Homo sapiens: one gene and its partner. The protein of the gene in region 1 purifies or fractionates together with the protein of each later gene. This does not show direct contact. Each region holds a gene or a part of one and is shown on either strand. Other genes may lie near its edges. The genes, in order: ZNF398 and JMY.

Region 1 (3,821 bases):
TCCCATTCAGATGTCTGCATGCAGTGGAAAGATGGAACAAGACATTGAGTGTTAGAAGGAACCCTAACTCCAAACTAAAATCAGATAAGGACTGCTTAACTGTCCAGCAGAGATTAATTTGAATATAGTTCTAGTACTGCCTGCGTATGCCTCATCTTTCTGGAGCTCACTGGCATCAACAGCCAAGAGACCTGATTTGGTGGTTCTGGGATAGATTGGGTAAGACAGTGAATTAATGAAATTGGCTCTTGAACTAGTCTGGTATATTTCCTCCGCTATAAGGCCCAGCTTAGGTTGCTGCAGCATCCTCTATCTCTGGAAAAGGCAAATGTGCACAAGGATCCTTTCCAGGCCTCACTGAACCTAGTGCCCTCTGATAAATCCATTATAGACTTATGCTCTAGACCTGTCAATCACCCTGTTTACAAACTACAACCACACCATTCAGTAATGGCTGAATAAGCTAAGAATCTTGAATCTGAAGAAAACATGAGAGCTGTTTTCAGATAATGAGGGTTACAAAACAGAAGGCAGAACAGCCTTGTTTCATCTTACACTATGTTACTCCAGAGGGCAGAACTAGAACCAACATAACGAAATTTTCAGACAGGCAAACTTTGGCCTACAATAAATACATTTTTTTCTTTTTAGAGACGGGGTCTTGGTGTCTCATTATGTTGCCTAGGCTGGCTCACTCAAGCAATCCTCCTGCCTCAACCTCCTAAGTAGCTGGGGCTACAGGTGTGTGCCATTGTGACCCACTAATAAATAATTGTTGAACTATTCAAAAAAAGAAATTCTTGCCGGTGCGGTGGCTCATGCCTGTAATCCCAGCACTTTGGGAGGCCGAGGTGGGCAGATCACCTGAGCTTGGGAGTGCGAGTCCAGCCTGGCCAACATGGTGAAATCCCGTCTCTACTAAAAGTACAAAAATTAGCCGGGTGATGGTGCACATCTGTAACACCAGCTACTCGGGAGGCTGAGACAGGAGAATCAGCTTGAACCTGAGAAGTGGAGGTTACAGTGAGCCAAGATTATGCCACTGCACTGCAGCATGGGCAACAGAGGGAGACTGTGTCTCAAAAAAAAAAAAAAAAAGAGGCTGGGCACGGTGGGTGGCTCACACCTGTAATCCCAGTACTTTGAGAGGCCGATCACCTGAGGTCGGGAGTTCGAGACCTGCCTGACCAACGTGGAGAAATCCCATCTCTACTAAAGATACAAAATTAGCCGGCCATCGTGGCAGATGCCTGTAATCTCAGCTACTCAGAGGCTGAGGCAGGACAATCGCTTGAACCCAGGAGACCGAGGTTTCAGTGAGCCGAGATCGCATCATTGCATTCCAGCCTGGGCAATAAGAGCAAAACTCCGTCTCAGAAAAAAAAAAAAAAAGAAATCTAGGCCAGGCGCGGTGGCTCACGCCTGCAATCCTAACACTTTGGGAGGCCGAGGGGGTGGATCACGAGGTCAGGAGATCGAGACCATCCTGGCTAACACGGTGAAACCCTGTCTCTACTAAAAATAGAAAAAATTAGCCAGGCGTGGTGGCGGGCGCCTGTAGTCTCAGCTACTTCGGAGGCTGAGGCAGCAGAATGGCGTGAACCCAGGAGGCGGAGCTTACAGCAACCCAACTTCGCGCCACTGCACTCCAGCCTGGGTGACAGAGTGAAACTCCGTCTCAAAAAAAAAAAAAAAGAAATCTTTAAGGGAAATCACATTATTAATTAATTAATTATTTATTTCTTGAGACAGAGTCTCGCTCTGTCGCCCAGGCTGGAGTACAGTGGTGCCATCTCAGCTTACTGCAACCTCCGCTGCCTGGGTTCAAGCGATTCTCCTGCCTCAGTCTCCCGAGTAGCTGGGACTACAGGAGCGTGCCACCATGCTCAGCTAATTTTTTGTATTTTTAGTAGAGATGGGGTTTCACCATGTTAGCCTGACCTCGTGATCCGCCCTCCTCGGCCTCCCAAAGTGTTGGCATTACGGGCGTGAGCCACCGTGCCCGGCCACATTATTTTATATATGATTTTAAAGTCTAAGATGGATAGTTTAAATGTTATCCACTTATTGCTTGAACCCAGGAGGCAGAGGTTACAGTGAGCCAAGATTCTGCTACTGTACTCCAGCCTACGCGACAGAACGAGATTCAGTCTCAAAAAAAAAAAAAGAAAAAAAAAGAAAGAAATTTTTGTTGAATGAATGAATAAATAAATAGGCTTGCATGCAAACCAGCCACCTCAGGATGTCTTCTATAGCTTAATTTTTTTTTTATTTTTTTATTTTTAGAGACAGGGTCACCGAGGCTGGAGTGCACTGACATGACCATAGCTCCTTGTAACCTATAACTCCTGGGTTATTGATCTTTCCAAGAAAATAAAAGGCTGCTCCAAAATAATTTACTTTGAAACAAAGAGTAGTATAAAAGGAAAAAATTCCCACAACAAATAAGTTGGACTAGGATGATGTATACAAAGCCTTCTAACTCTATGAACCTGATAAGCCACTCTCTGACGACAACCTCCCATCTTTCCAACTCACCCACTACTTTATTCTCATTTCACCTAGTCCTTTGACCATTCCATTTGCTCCTGGTATCTGCCCGTTCCTGGCTTTTTTTCTCTAATTGATCACATCAGTCACTTCCAACTCCCCTTCTCTCATGTCTTTCTGCCTCACCTGCTCAGCTAACCTCCGGCCTTGAATCAGTCCAATCATTCTTTCTCCATTCCTGTAAGCAGATTAGTAAGCGTGCCTAGAGGAAATCACCAGGTAAACTGCTGTCACCACATACCAATGGTTTCTAAGCTTAGTGGGGATCTCAACACTGACTTGTGCCCTCCATGCCGCTTGTCCCATTCCATAAAGTGGCTACTACAAAGCCTCAGCACAGTCCTTCAGCTTTTAGTACAGTTTGTCCTCAAACTAACATGAATAAGAATCAGCTGGAGGGGCCAGGCACAGTGGCTCATGCCTGTAATCCCAGCACTTTGCAAGGCTGAGACAGGTGGATCACCTGAGGTCAGGAGTTTGAGACCAGCCTGACCAGCATGGTGAAACCCTATCTCTACTAAAAAATACAAAAATTAGCTGGGTGTGGTGGCAAGCCATGTAATCCCAGCTACTCGGGAGACTGAGGCTAGAGAATCACTTGAACCCAGGAGGCGGAAGTTGCAGTGAGCTGAAATCGTGCCACTGCACTCCAGCATGGTGACAGAGCAAGACTCTGTCTAGGGCAGGAGGGGAGGCGGGGGGGCGCGGGAGGCGGGGAAGAATCACCTGGAGATCTTGTCAAAGTACAGATTTTTATTCAGTAGGTCTGTAAGGAAAACTGAGATTCTGTTGGGTTTTGTTTTTGTTTTTTTGGGATGAGGTCTCACTGTCACCCAGGCTGGAGTGCAGTGGTGTAATCTCAGCTTACCGCAACCTCCATCTCATGGGCTCAAGCGATTCTCCCATCTCAGCCTCCCGAGTAGCCGGGACCACAGGCACACACCACCATGCCCTGCTAATTTTTGTATTTTTGGTAGAGACAGGGTTTCACCATATTGCCTAGGCTGGTCTCAAACTACTCAGCTCAAGTGATCCACCTGCCTCAGCCTCCCAAAGTGCTGGGATTACAGGTGTGAGCCATGGTACACAGCCTGAGATTTTGTATTTTTAACAAATTCCCAGGTGATGCTGACACTGAGTAGTAAGACTTGTCTGCTGCAGCCCCCACTCTCAGAAGATGACATGTCCTCTTGCTTTGAGATGGAAATTAATCAGACCTAAATTCATTCAACTTTCTCTTCATACTCCTTGCTTCAAACTTATCAGTAACC
Region 2 (3,821 bases), on another chromosome or scaffold:
AACTTCTCATCTTTTTTCCTATTAATGATAAAAATTGGGACACAGCATAATGGAATTATTATTAATTTTTTACCAGAAGAGAGAAAAATTACATGATGAAGAAGAAAGAAAAAGTGCCTGGGTTAGCCAAGAGAGACAGAGAACACTGGATAGACTTCGAACATTTAAACAGGTATTAAAAGTAATGGTCCATTTATTGTTTTTCTTTTTTTTTTTTTTTTAACAGAGCTACATATACACCTGTAGGATTTCTTTGTGGGAAAAACTTGGTTTTCCCTTATTTATAAACTATTATAACCATGGAAGTCCTTTTTAAAATTGTTTTAATGGCATGGCTCCATTTCCTCTGGTGGTTTTCCGAATTTAGTATTCTTGTGACCTTTGACCCACAGCTTCAGTAGTATAAGAGGAATGATAAGGGCCTCTGGGAAACCTAGATTCCTCTTGAGTTTAAAAAATTAGTTAAATCACAACTGACTATCCAGCTCAAGCATCAGCATGTTATTTATTCCACATACATCAGCCTGTGGTGGTAATACATCAAATGACCATTGGCAGAATTAGAGGTGGAGGGGAGCAGCATATTTGAGAAATGCTTCAGCAGTTCTCTTGCCAGGGTAAGCCATGACCACACACTGATACCACAGTATCCACACATCTCCTCAGAACTGTGCTGAAGCCTCACAGTTCTCATTTTTAAAGTACTCTGGAGCCTTACTTCAGTTATGCATGCTGAAGGATCACTTTGTAGGTGAAGTAGGCTTTTGAACAAGTGTTACAGTGGAAAAAAAGGAGGTGAGGCAGGGGAAAAGCCTTGTTATTAAGTAAATGTGGCTCACGCCTGTAATCCCAGCACTTTATGAGGCTGAGGCAGGTGGATTGCTTGAGCCGGGGAGTTCAAGACCAGCCTGGGTAACATGGCGAAACCCTGTCTCTATACAAATTAGCCTGGCATGGTGGAACATGCCTGTGGTTCCGGCCATTTGGGTGGCTGAAGTGGGAGGATTACCTGAGCCAGGGAGGTCATGGCTGCAGTGAGCTGTGATCATACCACTGCACTCCAGTCTGGGCAACAGAGTGAGACCCTGTCTCAAAAACAAACAAACAAACAAAAGGTCTTACCATGGTAAAATATATATAAGAGTTCTACCAGTAAGTACTGAAAAAAATGTATTTCTCTCTTCATTCTGTCATAAAATGGATATATAGTTGATGGAGCTTTTTAAAAATGCCAAGTAACCTGTTAAAGAATATTTTAATTTTCTCGTGTGTGCATTTGAAAACATAGGAAACTTTTTGCATACCAGTAGCATTTATACATTTGACATCACTTATGTTTTGCATTTTACATGCTATTTGTTTTATACATTTAGTAGTTTTATTCACTAAAAATCTTTTTTTAATCATAATTTTGAATATTTGAATTATCAATCGTGGATTTGATAGGCAAATAATAAATTCATAATTGTTTGTAAGCTATTATTAGGTACTTTCGGATTTTCTGTATAACTTTAAGGGTGAAATAACCAATAAGCCAACATAACATTTTTGAGATGGAATCTCACTCTGTCACTCAGGCTGGAGTGCGGTGGCACAATCTCGGCTCACTGCAACTTCCGCCTCCCGGGTTCAAGCAATTCTCCTGCCTCAGCCTCCTGAGTAGCTGGGACTACAGGTGCCTGCCACCACACCCAGCTAATTTTTGTATTTTTAGTAGTGACGGGGTTTCACCATGTCGGCCAGGCTGGTCTCAAACTCCTGATCTCAGGTGATCCACCCGCCTCGGCCTCCCAAAGTGCTGGGATTACAGGCGTGAGCCACCACACCCGGCCACATAACATCTTTTATTTGAAGGAGAAAATAAATAGGCATGTGCTCATAAATTGTTTCAATAACATTTAACCAGTTCCAATAACTTCTGGTATTTTAGAGGTATCCTGGGCAAGTCATACTTAAATCAACCAGATTACGACTAGCTCATGCAAGAAGAAAAGGTGCAGCAAGTCCTGTTCTCCAAGAGGATCATTGTGACTCTTTACCAAGTGTGTTACAGGTAGAAGAGAAAACTGAAGAGGTGGGAGAAGGAAGAGTCAAGCGTGGGCCATCACAGACAACAGAACCCCAGAGCCTTGTGCAACTTGAAGATACTTCATTAACACAACTTGAAGCCACCTCATTACCTCTCAGTGGTGTTACCTCTGAACTGCCTCCCACTATATCTCTTCCACTTTTGAATAACAACCTCGAACCATGTTCTGTTACCATAAATCCACTCCCATCCCCTCTTCCTCCAACACCACCACCTCCCCCACCTCCTCCCCCTCCCCCACCACCACCACCTCTGCCTGTTGCTAAGGACAGTGGCCCAGAGACACTGGAGAAAGATCTGCCTAGAAAGGAGGGGAATGAGAAGAGGATCCCAAAGTCAGCCAGTGCCCCCTCAGCACACCTCTTTGACAGCAGCCAGCTGGTCAGTGCACGGAAGAAGCTCAGAAAGACTGCTGAAGGTTTGCAGAGGAGGAGAGGTACGTCAACATATTTTCATGGTCCATCTGTTGTATGACATCAGGCATAGTAAAAAACTATATTTTTTGACGTTGCAAAGCTTAAAACACTTTATTTTTGACATTATTTGATAGTAAACAGGTTTTCAAAGTCACACTAGAGGAGAATTCTTAGTGCATAAAGTACACAGAAATGTATGCCTTCTTGGGCTGTTAGGCATGTTTTAAAAACAGATCTTCTAAAGTGATACATTCATGTTTGGTAATGTATAATGGGTGGCTCCTTTTGTGTTAGGGAAAAAGTTTTGATTTTAAACCTGAGATTTTTAAAAAAATACTCATATCAGAAAGGGTAAGATATCTGGTAAGGACTGTCACCACAGGGAAGACATTGGCAGGATCATGTAACATTTGTTCATACATTTGTTGAGGACTTTTGTGTATTTGTATAAAGAAGCAAAGAAGAACAGGGAGTAATCTGTTCAACTTACAATGTGACAGATGTGCCTCAATAAGGTTACTATTTTTTTTTCTAATTTTTTTTGTTAAGAGAGATTCAAGCACAAATAAAATTATTTCTAAAAAGAGCAGAGAATAACCCTTGCCTTTTGCCTTTAAGGAATTTGCATTTTGCATGGGGAGAACATTATATAAATGTTACATATTACTTGTATATTACATTTTAACCTGAAGGACCATTCTATAAAACATTTCTTGATGTAATCTGAGTAGGATTTCACATGTAAAACAACTAAATGAAAAAAGCACAGTCTCCATAATAAACAAAAATTAATTTTTAAAAACAAAATGTGTAACCCCATCACTCTGAATTTGGGTGGAGCAACTGCAATATGGAAATCCTTTGGGAATCACACCCATAATACTACTAAGACCACCTCCCAGTTCCCAATCTGGTCACTTCTCTCATGTAGGAAATGATAGGAATACCAACAGTACCCACCATGGATTGGGTCTTGGGATTTTCTAAAAAGAAGGATAATTAGGATCCCTTGTGTTCTGATCACCTTCTGCACACATTTCATGATCCATTTTGAAGATGGTGTTTCAGCGTCCTGTGCTTTCACAGTTGCGAACGGTAGAGGTTATACAGTTTCATTCTAATTAAGTGCAGTCCTAACTGTAATACTGTTCTGTTTCATTTTCCAAAGTGAGCTCACCCATGGATGAGGTGCTAGCCTCCTTGAAGCGTGGTAGTTTTCATCTGAAAAAGGTTGAACAGCGAACTCTGCCTCCTTTTCCTGATGAAGATGATAGTAATAATATCTTGGCACAAATAAGGAAAGGGGTAAAATTGAA

What was found.
Region 2: the proteins of ZNF398 (region 1) and JMY purify together in Homo sapiens (affinity purification with mass spectrometry; one large-scale study listed by BioGRID and IntAct). This does not show direct contact.

The regions. Positions count from the first base shown.
Region 1 is NC_000007.14:149,150,138-149,153,958, reverse strand, and holds part of ZNF398 (zinc finger protein 398), read right to left. Parts: intron 2,985-3,821; exon of another isoform or gene 2,716-2,984; coding exon of another isoform or gene 2,677-2,715; intron 15-2,676; coding exon 1-14. UniProt on the Homo sapiens protein: Functions as a transcriptional activator.
Region 2 is NC_000005.10:79,312,327-79,316,147, forward strand, and holds part of JMY (junction-mediating and -regulatory protein), read left to right. Parts: intron 1-76; coding exon 77-172; intron 173-1,930; coding exon 1,931-2,525; intron 2,526-3,673; coding exon 3,674-3,821. UniProt on the Homo sapiens protein: Acts both as a nuclear p53/TP53-cofactor and a cytoplasmic regulator of actin dynamics depending on conditions. In nucleus, acts as a cofactor that increases p53/TP53 response via its interaction with p300/EP300.